Regions from separate parts of the Homo sapiens genome. Here region 2 is linked to region 1. Evidence: fine-mapped QTL for protein levels in blood plasma. A gene starts in region 1. The other region holds a variant in brackets. All regions are shown on one strand. Distances are between the middles of the regions.

Region 1 (4,397 bases):
TTGGTATTTAGGTAGTGACAGCCAAAAGACACTTAATACATATACAAATTTTGTTTTTTAAAATGACTTTTAAAGAACAATCCTAATACATACCTGGCTACAACTCTTTCAGGGAGAAAAAAAAAAAAAAGCAAATACACTTAGATGTTCCTTTTGGACCCTTACCTGTATTCTTTCTTGTCCTGTGGCAGAAGCAAACCCTGAAGCTCTACCACAAAGTCCTCATGCAATAAGCAATGGGAAACAGGAATGCTAGAGAAAAGAAAAAAGTTGAAAACATTTTTAGGTCAGGAACAGAGATCAATATCCTAAAGTCAAATCAAAACTATGGGTTTTTACACCAAGAATCTATGTATAACCTCTACTGGGTTTGTAATTCCCACACATTATCACAGCTATGGGCATTCCTTTGGGGAAGAAGTCCCTAGCTTTCATCTTTACCCACTTTCTCAAATAAAGCATAACTGTTTCTTGATGACTCAAAAGTTTAAAACCACACTGCACTGTGTAATCTCTACACTGGGATCCCCCTACGAATGACATAATTAGGGCTGGCTGTGAGGCCCTGTATGAATTTTCCCCAGGCTCTTCCCTTCATCCTTTCCCTCTAACAAGCTGAGAGCTGTCACTTAGTGTTATTCACACGCCTACCTCTAACAATACGCCCTATATGCTTCTTGTTTTGTGTAAGTTTTTAATCACTCCCTTCCAACTTATTATGAAAAAATTTAAATATATATAACATTTGAGAGTAAACAGGTTTGAGTGAAGGTTTAAAGTACTCTCCTAAACCTGTGGCACTTTTTTTGGCCTGTATATTGGTTATCAGATATAGTCCAAATAAATCAAGTTTATCAAATAATTGTCTTCAAATACCACTGTGCTAGTTTGTATAGCAAAGCATTTGTGTAGATGGGATCCTAAATAAGAGTGTTTCTCTTAATGTAAAACCAAATCTTATGCCACCATTAATGTTGAATTCCTGCAAAGGTAAAAATGCTTCTATCTCACAAAACTTGACCTGGGTACTATATCTGAGAGGCTCAGTGTAAATCATCTAACTCATGAAACAGAAACATGGGAAGTTAGTATACATGTTGAAAGGGCACTTTTCTAATACTGATATCCATTATGTACTCTACATCTGACACGGAGAAAAATAACTTTTCTCTACCAAGTTTTGCTGAATAGAGAGCAGGAGATGTTTAATGATGTGATGATAGTTTTAAAATTCACATAGAAAATGTAGACACTTGGTACTGTGAAAACATTAACACTTGACAAACTATTAACTTTCCTCACTTTAGAGAAGATGCTTAACATTTCTGACTCTCTCCTCCCACCTCAGCCTCACGAGTAGCTGGGACTACAGGCGTGTGATACCATGCCTAGACAATTTTTTTTAATTTTTCGTAGAGACGGGATTTCACCATGTTGCCCAGGCTGGTTTCGAACCCCTGGGCTCAAGCGATTCGCTCGCCTTCGCCTCCCAAAGTGCTGGGATTACAGGCGTCACACACCGCGCCAGGCCCTCCGTTGTTTCTTCCAGCGCTAATTTCTTTGAATTATCAATTTCACCATTTAGATGCAGAGAATCCTACTTAAAAATAAGAAGGCTAACAACTAATCACTAGAGTGTTTTAAGCTCAAACATTTAAAAAAAACCGTCGGGCCTAAAACTAGTGCAAAACAGGGACAAATTATTTTCCACTATGTCTGCTGTGTGTCCTTACTCCTTTAAAGGGGGAGGGACTGTCTGGGCAGGAGAAGGGAGTGGTTAAGGCCTGTCAAGTGAATAGAAACCCAGAGCTGGAAAACACCGGATCCTCAATTTTACAGGTAGGGGAACCATCGGCCCAGAGAGGGGGGTAACCAGCCTCGGGTCACACAGCCAGAATTAGCTGGGCGTCTTCCGAACACGCCACGCTGCCCTGGGATCACCAATTGCTTAAAGGGTCCTGACACCGCAAACTAGGGCCCCACCACTCCTCGGCCCTGTGACGCCCGACAGCGGGGAGCGGGAAGCTCCTCTCGGGAGGCCCCGGGCAGCCACAGGGAGTGGGGCCCAGCTCCAGACCTACTCGGTGGCCCGCACGAAGCTGCACGTGTCTGCCCGGCACACGTAGAAGCTCTTTCCTTTATTCGGGCCATCGCGGACGCCGGTCTTAAGAAAGCAGAAAGTCCCTGAAGAGAGAAGAAAGTGAACAACGATTACGCCACGCTAAATCAACAGGCCCCGGGACGCTGAGACCCTAGCCCCTTACCGTGCTCTGGACACCTAACTTCTTCCATTTCGCTGGGTCCCCCAAGTTCCACAAAGCCCCGCCCCCAATTCTGCTTCCGCCTTTTACTCCGCCCTCTTTGTTCAGGAACCAACCATCACTCAGCTCTTGCAGTCTTAATCCCTCCCATAATTCTCCGCCCTTGGCCTTCACCCGTCCTAGCCGCTATCAGCCAATCATATAGGAACTTCGCTCACCTCCAACCAATCACAGCTGCCCTCAGGTATGGCGCGCGCCGAAATCAAATACGGAGCCAGGGGGCGTAAAGGACCCGGCTTTTGCAGGCTGGGGCGTGGCTGAGGCTGGGGAGAAGCTTAGAAGGTGGCGGGGCTTCTGGAGGAAAAGAAGCTTCGATTTGCAGGTCTTGGAAGACGGAAGGGCAACTCTTGTTTACGTTTAAAACCGAGAGGCGGCCCTAGGGGTAGCGCCAGTTAGCAGGCGCTGAAAGGCCCTGGCTTCGTGGGTGTCTCTGAGCCAGGCTGGCGCTCGTGCGCGCTGGGCTCCGCGCTCAGTCGCTGGGGTGGGAGGCCAGGGGAAGCCGCCGCTGCAGGCCGAGCCGCGAGATTTGCAGTGCAGGAGCCGAAGCGGCGGGCATGGTGGGAGGTCCTTGGAAGCTGCTGCGGGGAACTGAAACGGCTCTGATAGGCAGGCACAAAGACTTCTCTAGGACCCCCTACAATGCTTTACGTTTGCCTCGTGCTTTAGATTTCACAAAGTGCTTACACATAACACGACCCTCCTCACTCGACCTGGTGAGATGGGTAGCATTTTGTGGAAGATTCCGAGACTCAAGTTTGAGAGACTCACCCAAGGTCAGAGTTGGCGAGTGGGCGGTCCGTGGACAGGTGCGCAGGTCTCAGCGCCATTTGGCCCGCGCTGCTGCTTCCTGTGTGTACTGGATGTTCTCTAGGCTCGCCCAGCGTGGAAGCCCCGAGTTACCAGCCGCAACGTGGAAACCACAGAAGGGGAAATAGATGACTTTTGGTGAAGGCGAATTTTACTTTATCATTTTGTATTGTCAAACTTTTTTTTACTATTATGCTTTTGTAATTTTAAAAATCGAAGACGAGGTTAAATAGAAGAAAGGGGACAGTTCCCTTCTATTTAACTTCATCCTCGATTTTTAAAATTTGAAGTTGTAATCAAAACTATTAGTAAACAGAGAGGAATAGATATTAGATTTATTGCAATAGAAATAGTTTCATATTGCAGCTATTGAGGACCATATGTCCCAGACATATGGTGTGGCACCTGCACTGTTCTTATGGGGGCCGTAGAACAGAAAATCTGTAATGTCTAGGAAATCTGGGCGATGTGATAAATGTACATGTTATGGGGATCCGGAGGAAGGGAGACAAACCTGAGGTATCATTTATTAATTAAACAGTACTTACTAAATAGCTTTTTTGTGCCCGTTGTGGACTAGGTGCTTGAGAAATGTAAAATTCATTCATTCACACACACAAAGTTTGAAACAACTATTCTAAGCACAAGGAACTTACTCAGTATTTTGAGGAGACTGAACTAGTACATGTTGAACACTTAAATAACAATATAAAATAGTATTTAAATGTCAAAATGAATGGAGTTAGCAGTAACTCTCTAGGACTAGAGAAAAATGGAATTTCCAAAGTGAAGTTCCTTTATACATAACTACCCTTCCGAAACTTAGATGAACTTAGAGATAAGACAGGAACAACAAATAGGTAGAAGCATTTTCATTATTCCAAGATTGTTATTCTTGCAAATGATGTATTTGTACATGTTTAATAGATGCTGTATTGGAGGTAGTATACCATGAATACAGGATTTGCAGAAAGAGGGGCATGGTAATTAATTATTTCTTGAATAATTTTCGAAACAAGGCAAAATCGGGGCCTCTTAAATATCCCGTTAAGGAAGAAGCTCCTCCTCTGCAAGTACCCAAGTCGGTATCTCCAGTCCAACCTCACAAAAGTGTGCACAGCCAAATCACAGACAGGAGGAATATTTCTTCCATAAATTAAAAATATACTAGATCAAAATGTTAAGTCCCTGGACAACTTATTCCACCTCATCATATTTACAAGATTGAAAAAAATAAGTTTGAGATTGGACGAAAGATGGTCATAACTG
Region 2 (4,397 bases), 38 kb before region 1:
GGTGAGAGCTACTGAAGAATATGAGAAGTGGATGACACAATCAGATGGATTAGCTAGGAAGAGCCCTTCGGTGGTGATGGAGAGAACAGGATTCAGCAGAGTGGGAAGGGGGGACCTGGCAGTGGGCATGGGAAGGAAGAAATGGTTATCAGAAACATTTAGAAAATATAACTAAAGGACTTGGTAAGTGGAAAAGCGAGAAAGGTAGGAGTCTAGTTCTGGCTAGATAATTAGATAAAGAGTGATACTATTCACAAAGACAATGACTACAGAAGAATAGCAGATTTGAGATAATAGGAAGAGAAAATCAATTTCTATTTGTAACATTTGAGTACCTGAAACATGTAATTATACTTGCTACATAGTGGGTGCTCAAAAGGTATGTTTTATGGGCTGAATGCTCAAAAGAACAATGAATAAAAGAAGGAATAACAGATGAGTATGTGGACACTCGGATTCAGATATTTAGCAGGGACTGCGATAGGTCTGAAGTTTAGGAGACCTTGGAACTAAAGATACAAATTTTGGACTTACTGGAGTGCACAGAATTTGTGAAGGAAGGAATGTACAGAATGAGCAGAGAAGAGAGCATAGGAAGACTATCATAATCACTATATTTAGCAAAGTCTGGAAGTCATTGGTGCCCCTTAACAAGAGCAATTTCAGTGCAGCAACAGGAGTAAAAGCCAGTTTGTAAAGGCTGAGGAATGAATGGGAAGTAATCAAGTAAAGATAGGCAGTGATTCCTAATTCTTCAGGAAACCTGGTCATGAAAAGGAAGGCAAAAAAGAGGGCCATTGTGAGAGGGGATTGGCAGCATTAAGGCAGGTTTTGTTGTTTTTAAAGACAAGGGGGTCCAAAACAGAGGACATTTTGCAAAATAACTGGCTCATGCTCATCAAAATGTCAATGTCATAAAACACAAAGACTGGGTACTGTTCCAGATCAAAGGAGACAAACTTATGAAAACTGCGTGCTACCAGGATCTGGGATTCTTTTTTGCTGTGAAGGACATCACTGAGACAAGTGAGATTGAAAAGATCTGTAGATCAGATAATAGTGTTTTATTAATTTTAATAACCTGATTTTGATGATTTTATTGGGGTTACGTAAGAGAATTCCCTTAATTTTAAGAAATGTACACTTAAGTACTTAGGGACAAAGGAGCATCAGGTCTACAACTTGTTCTCAAGTGGTCCAGAAAAATGTTTCTACCCACATGCACACCATAATATATGGGAACTTTTTGGTACTATTCTTGTACGTTTTCTGTATGTCTGAAATTATGTCAAAATAAAAGTTAAAAAGAAAAATAAAAGATAGGAGCATCCTTTCATGGACTGCCCTCACCATATACACAAATTTGCTCTTCTTTTGCAGTGACCAACTTCAAGCTTACCCCAAATTGCTCGTTTTTCTCCTGACTGTGGTTTGCCTGAAGGTATGCCTCAGGGGCATCATCAGTAAAGTCATCACCAAATACTTTAAATTCTATGAAAACACTACCTAAGAAAGAAAGACTTTCACAAAGTACAAGTTGAGAAGGGTCCTGGGTCCTGGGGACCATTACTTACCTGTGTATGACAACATCTTTCTGCTGCCCTACTCGGTAAATTCGGTCACAAGCTTGATCTTCAAGTGATGGATTCCTGTTAGAAGACAGCTAAAGCTCAAAGGAACTGACATACTAGATCAGAAATGGCAAACTATGGGCCATGGGCCAAATCCAGCCCACAGCTTGTTTTTGTAGCTAAAAATTATTGTTACAGTTTTAAAGGGATTTAAGAAAAGAAAGCAAAGCAAAACAAAACACACACATCATGTGACAGAGAACTATGTGGCCTGAAAAGCCTCAAAGAAAAAAAATCTGTCGATCCCTGTCCTAAGCTATACTGGCCTAAGACAAGCTGGTGCCAGATACCTTCTTGCCTAGTTTCTAGTGAGAAACTAGGGTCAGACTGTTAATAATAGCTCTTAGCACTATCATCAGTTGACAACTCTTAAGTAACAGAGGTGAAACCAAAACTCAGGTCTGGTCTCTAGGTAGCTAGATGTCCTTGGGCAAGTTATTTAACCTCAGTCCTCTAGGCTTCAGATTGCTACTTGGAAATTGAAGGGCCAGCTAATGATCTTGACTAGCTGCCTTTTTCAACTTGAATATTCTGTGATTCGATTAAGGAGACTTAATTTGTTTCCTTCTTTATTGATTCCCATTGTAACTCCAAATTAGTTTCTCATCTTACCTCTTTAAAATCTTGGATAACATTTCTCTATCTCTGAAAAAAAAAAAAA[AG/G]CATGATTCCTAGTATGCTTTCCTCACTCACGTGTACAGAGGAGTCCCAAGTAAGAACTAAACCCGTTCTCCTGGAAGATGATAACAGGTTGACCTATTTGTACCCATCTGGGCTGTCTGGAGAATTGGACCAATGACAATCCCCAGCAGCAATCCTTGATTGGCATAACTGGAAAACCAGAAACTGGTACTCATTATGAGATTTTCTGTTAGCAACACACTAACTCATTCATTCTGTAGCCACGAAAGATGTGGTTGTACTCCTGGTATTAACACTACATACAATGAATCCAAGGGTGAGGTATTAAGTGTATTTCTAACATAATTAGAAAATCCCTATTCCTTTTCTTTTTGGAGTAATGCTTCTCCCTCTTTTCAAAGGTTGAAATTTCCTTGGACCCCAACAAGTGTGTCTGGAATACAGTATTCTGGAGAAGAGGTAAAACTGAGCAAGGTTAACTCTTAGCCATGAGGAAAAGCTATGCTCCCCGTTTCCATGGAAACAGATGTTAGACTAACAATAACGTGAATGAACTATTTTGAGTAGTCATTTGAAGGCTTGCTAGCTCAGGAATTCAGGGGAGTCAGCTAGCCCTATACCCTGCTTAGATCTGTATCTATAGACACATACAAAGCAAGGCATCTCTGCAATACGAACACAGCAATCAACATAAGAAGTCAGTTCTTGCTGCCCCTGTAGCCCACTGGCCTCCTTGATGTGCTGTGACAACCCAGGACAAATCCGGAATCATTACCAGTGCATGTCCAAAAGAAAGAGGTGATTTCCTCCAGTCAGGTTTAGACCAACACCTCCGGCCAAGAGAGAGATTAGCATTACCTTCAAAAGGAAACACAACATTAACTTTAAACAGACTTGGTCTCGTAACACATCTCGGTCTCAGGTTTAAGTCCACAATCAATACAGATAAGCACTGTGTTCCTATCAAATTTCCTTCTGCTGTTATAAATTGTTTTTTTTTTTAACATTATAATGCTATCTCCCATGTCTCACTTTTGAGAAAATTCTCACATCACATTTTGTGTGTGTGTGAGTCAACCTCAAAAAATTAACTGAGTGCTTGCCAAAATATATAAATACTGTAATTTAGAACCCTGGGGATGGTCAGCTCAATAAACTTTCAATTAACCAGATTATGTTTATTTCATCAGTCCCTACCCCTCCATTGCTACAATAATTCTCCTGCCTATCATTCTACTAATGCTTTCCAAATCTTTATTATCTATAATTAGATGCCTGTGTTCTTTCATTTCCTTCCATATTTCCTCATACCAAAACCCCACCTATCCTTCAAAGCTTGCCTCCTCTGCAAAGATTCCCCTCAACCTAACCAGCTCTGCTGTTAATCTCCTTTTAGTCCTCATATTTGATTCTTTTTAGAATATTTGTGCTCTTTAAAAGTATCCCAATACATGTCTAATAAATTCTAAACACTCGGAGGAATCAAGGCTGTAAATATTTTTAAGTTGCCATATCAGAATTCTCTTTATATGGCTGGGCACGGTGGCTTACGCCTGTAACCCCAGCACTTTGGGAGGCCAAGGCAGGTGGATCACCTGAGGTCAGGAGTTCAAGACCAGCCTGGCCAACATGGTGAAACCTCATCTCTACTGAAAATACAAAAATTAGCCAAGCTTGGTGGCAGGAGCCTGTAATCCCAGCTACTTGAAAGGCTGAGGCAGGAGAATCGCTTGAACCCGGGAGGCGGAGGTTGCGGTGAGCCAAGATAGCACTATTGCAGTCCAGCCTGGGCAACAAGAGCAAAACTCCGTCTCAAAAAGACAAAAACAAAAACCAACCAAACAAAAAGAATTCTCTTTGTATAACTCAGAACAGTTAATTATGCGGCTCTGATGTGACCAGCTTGTACCTGAGGGCCTCTGGAGTGGTTAAATGCCTCTACCAAGTCCATTCTCTGCTTGGGATTGACAGAGCCATCGATGGTGGCATAAGTCAGTCCATGCTTCTTCAGGTGCAATGCTACAACTTTCAGCATGTTGGTCCACTGAGAGACAATGACACTGGAAAGAAGAATAAAATAAAAAAATACCCTAACATAGATTAAACAGACTCATCTGCAGGGCT

Alleles and levels. Positions count from the first base shown, and alleles are read on the strand shown. Strength reflects both the effect of a copy and how common the allele is.
For the plasma level of the protein whose gene starts at base 2,313 in region 1, G is the high allele of the variant in region 2 and AG is the other (weak association).

Evidence for each region. A credible set is the group of variants that fine-mapping cannot tell apart. PIP is the chance, under the fine-mapping model, that this variant and not a neighbour inherited with it causes the effect. The UK Biobank Pharma Proteomics Project read protein levels with antibody pairs (Olink). The fine-mapping took linkage between variants from a reference panel, not from the people measured, so its PIPs are less certain.
Region 2: its variant is the best candidate, but not a certain one, in a credible set for the plasma level of the TTF2 protein (UK Biobank, PIP 0.74).

Annotation. Positions count from the first base shown.
Region 1 is chr1:117,058,242-117,062,638 of GRCh38, reverse strand. It overlaps TTF2 (transcription termination factor 2), which reads right to left and starts at 2,313. Exons shown (of 23, transcript NM_003594.4): 1 at 2,265-2,313; 2 at 2,082-2,184; 3 at 166-252. The coding sequence starts at 2,292. CD101-AS1 (CD101 antisense RNA 1) reads left to right here and starts at 3,149. Exons shown (of 4, transcript NR_110786.1): 1 at 3,149-3,266. RefSeq lists an enhancer at 2,613-2,772 and a silencer at 3,193-3,242.
Region 2 is chr1:117,096,085-117,100,481 of GRCh38, reverse strand. TTF2 (transcription termination factor 2) reads right to left here. Exons shown (of 23, transcript NM_003594.4): 20 at 4,183-4,333; 21 at 3,049-3,131; 22 at 1,575-1,649. Among named protein-coding and RNA genes, the nearest start is that of MIR942, 3.6 kb to the right of the region's middle. The variant AG/G (reference allele first, on the strand shown) is at 2,293.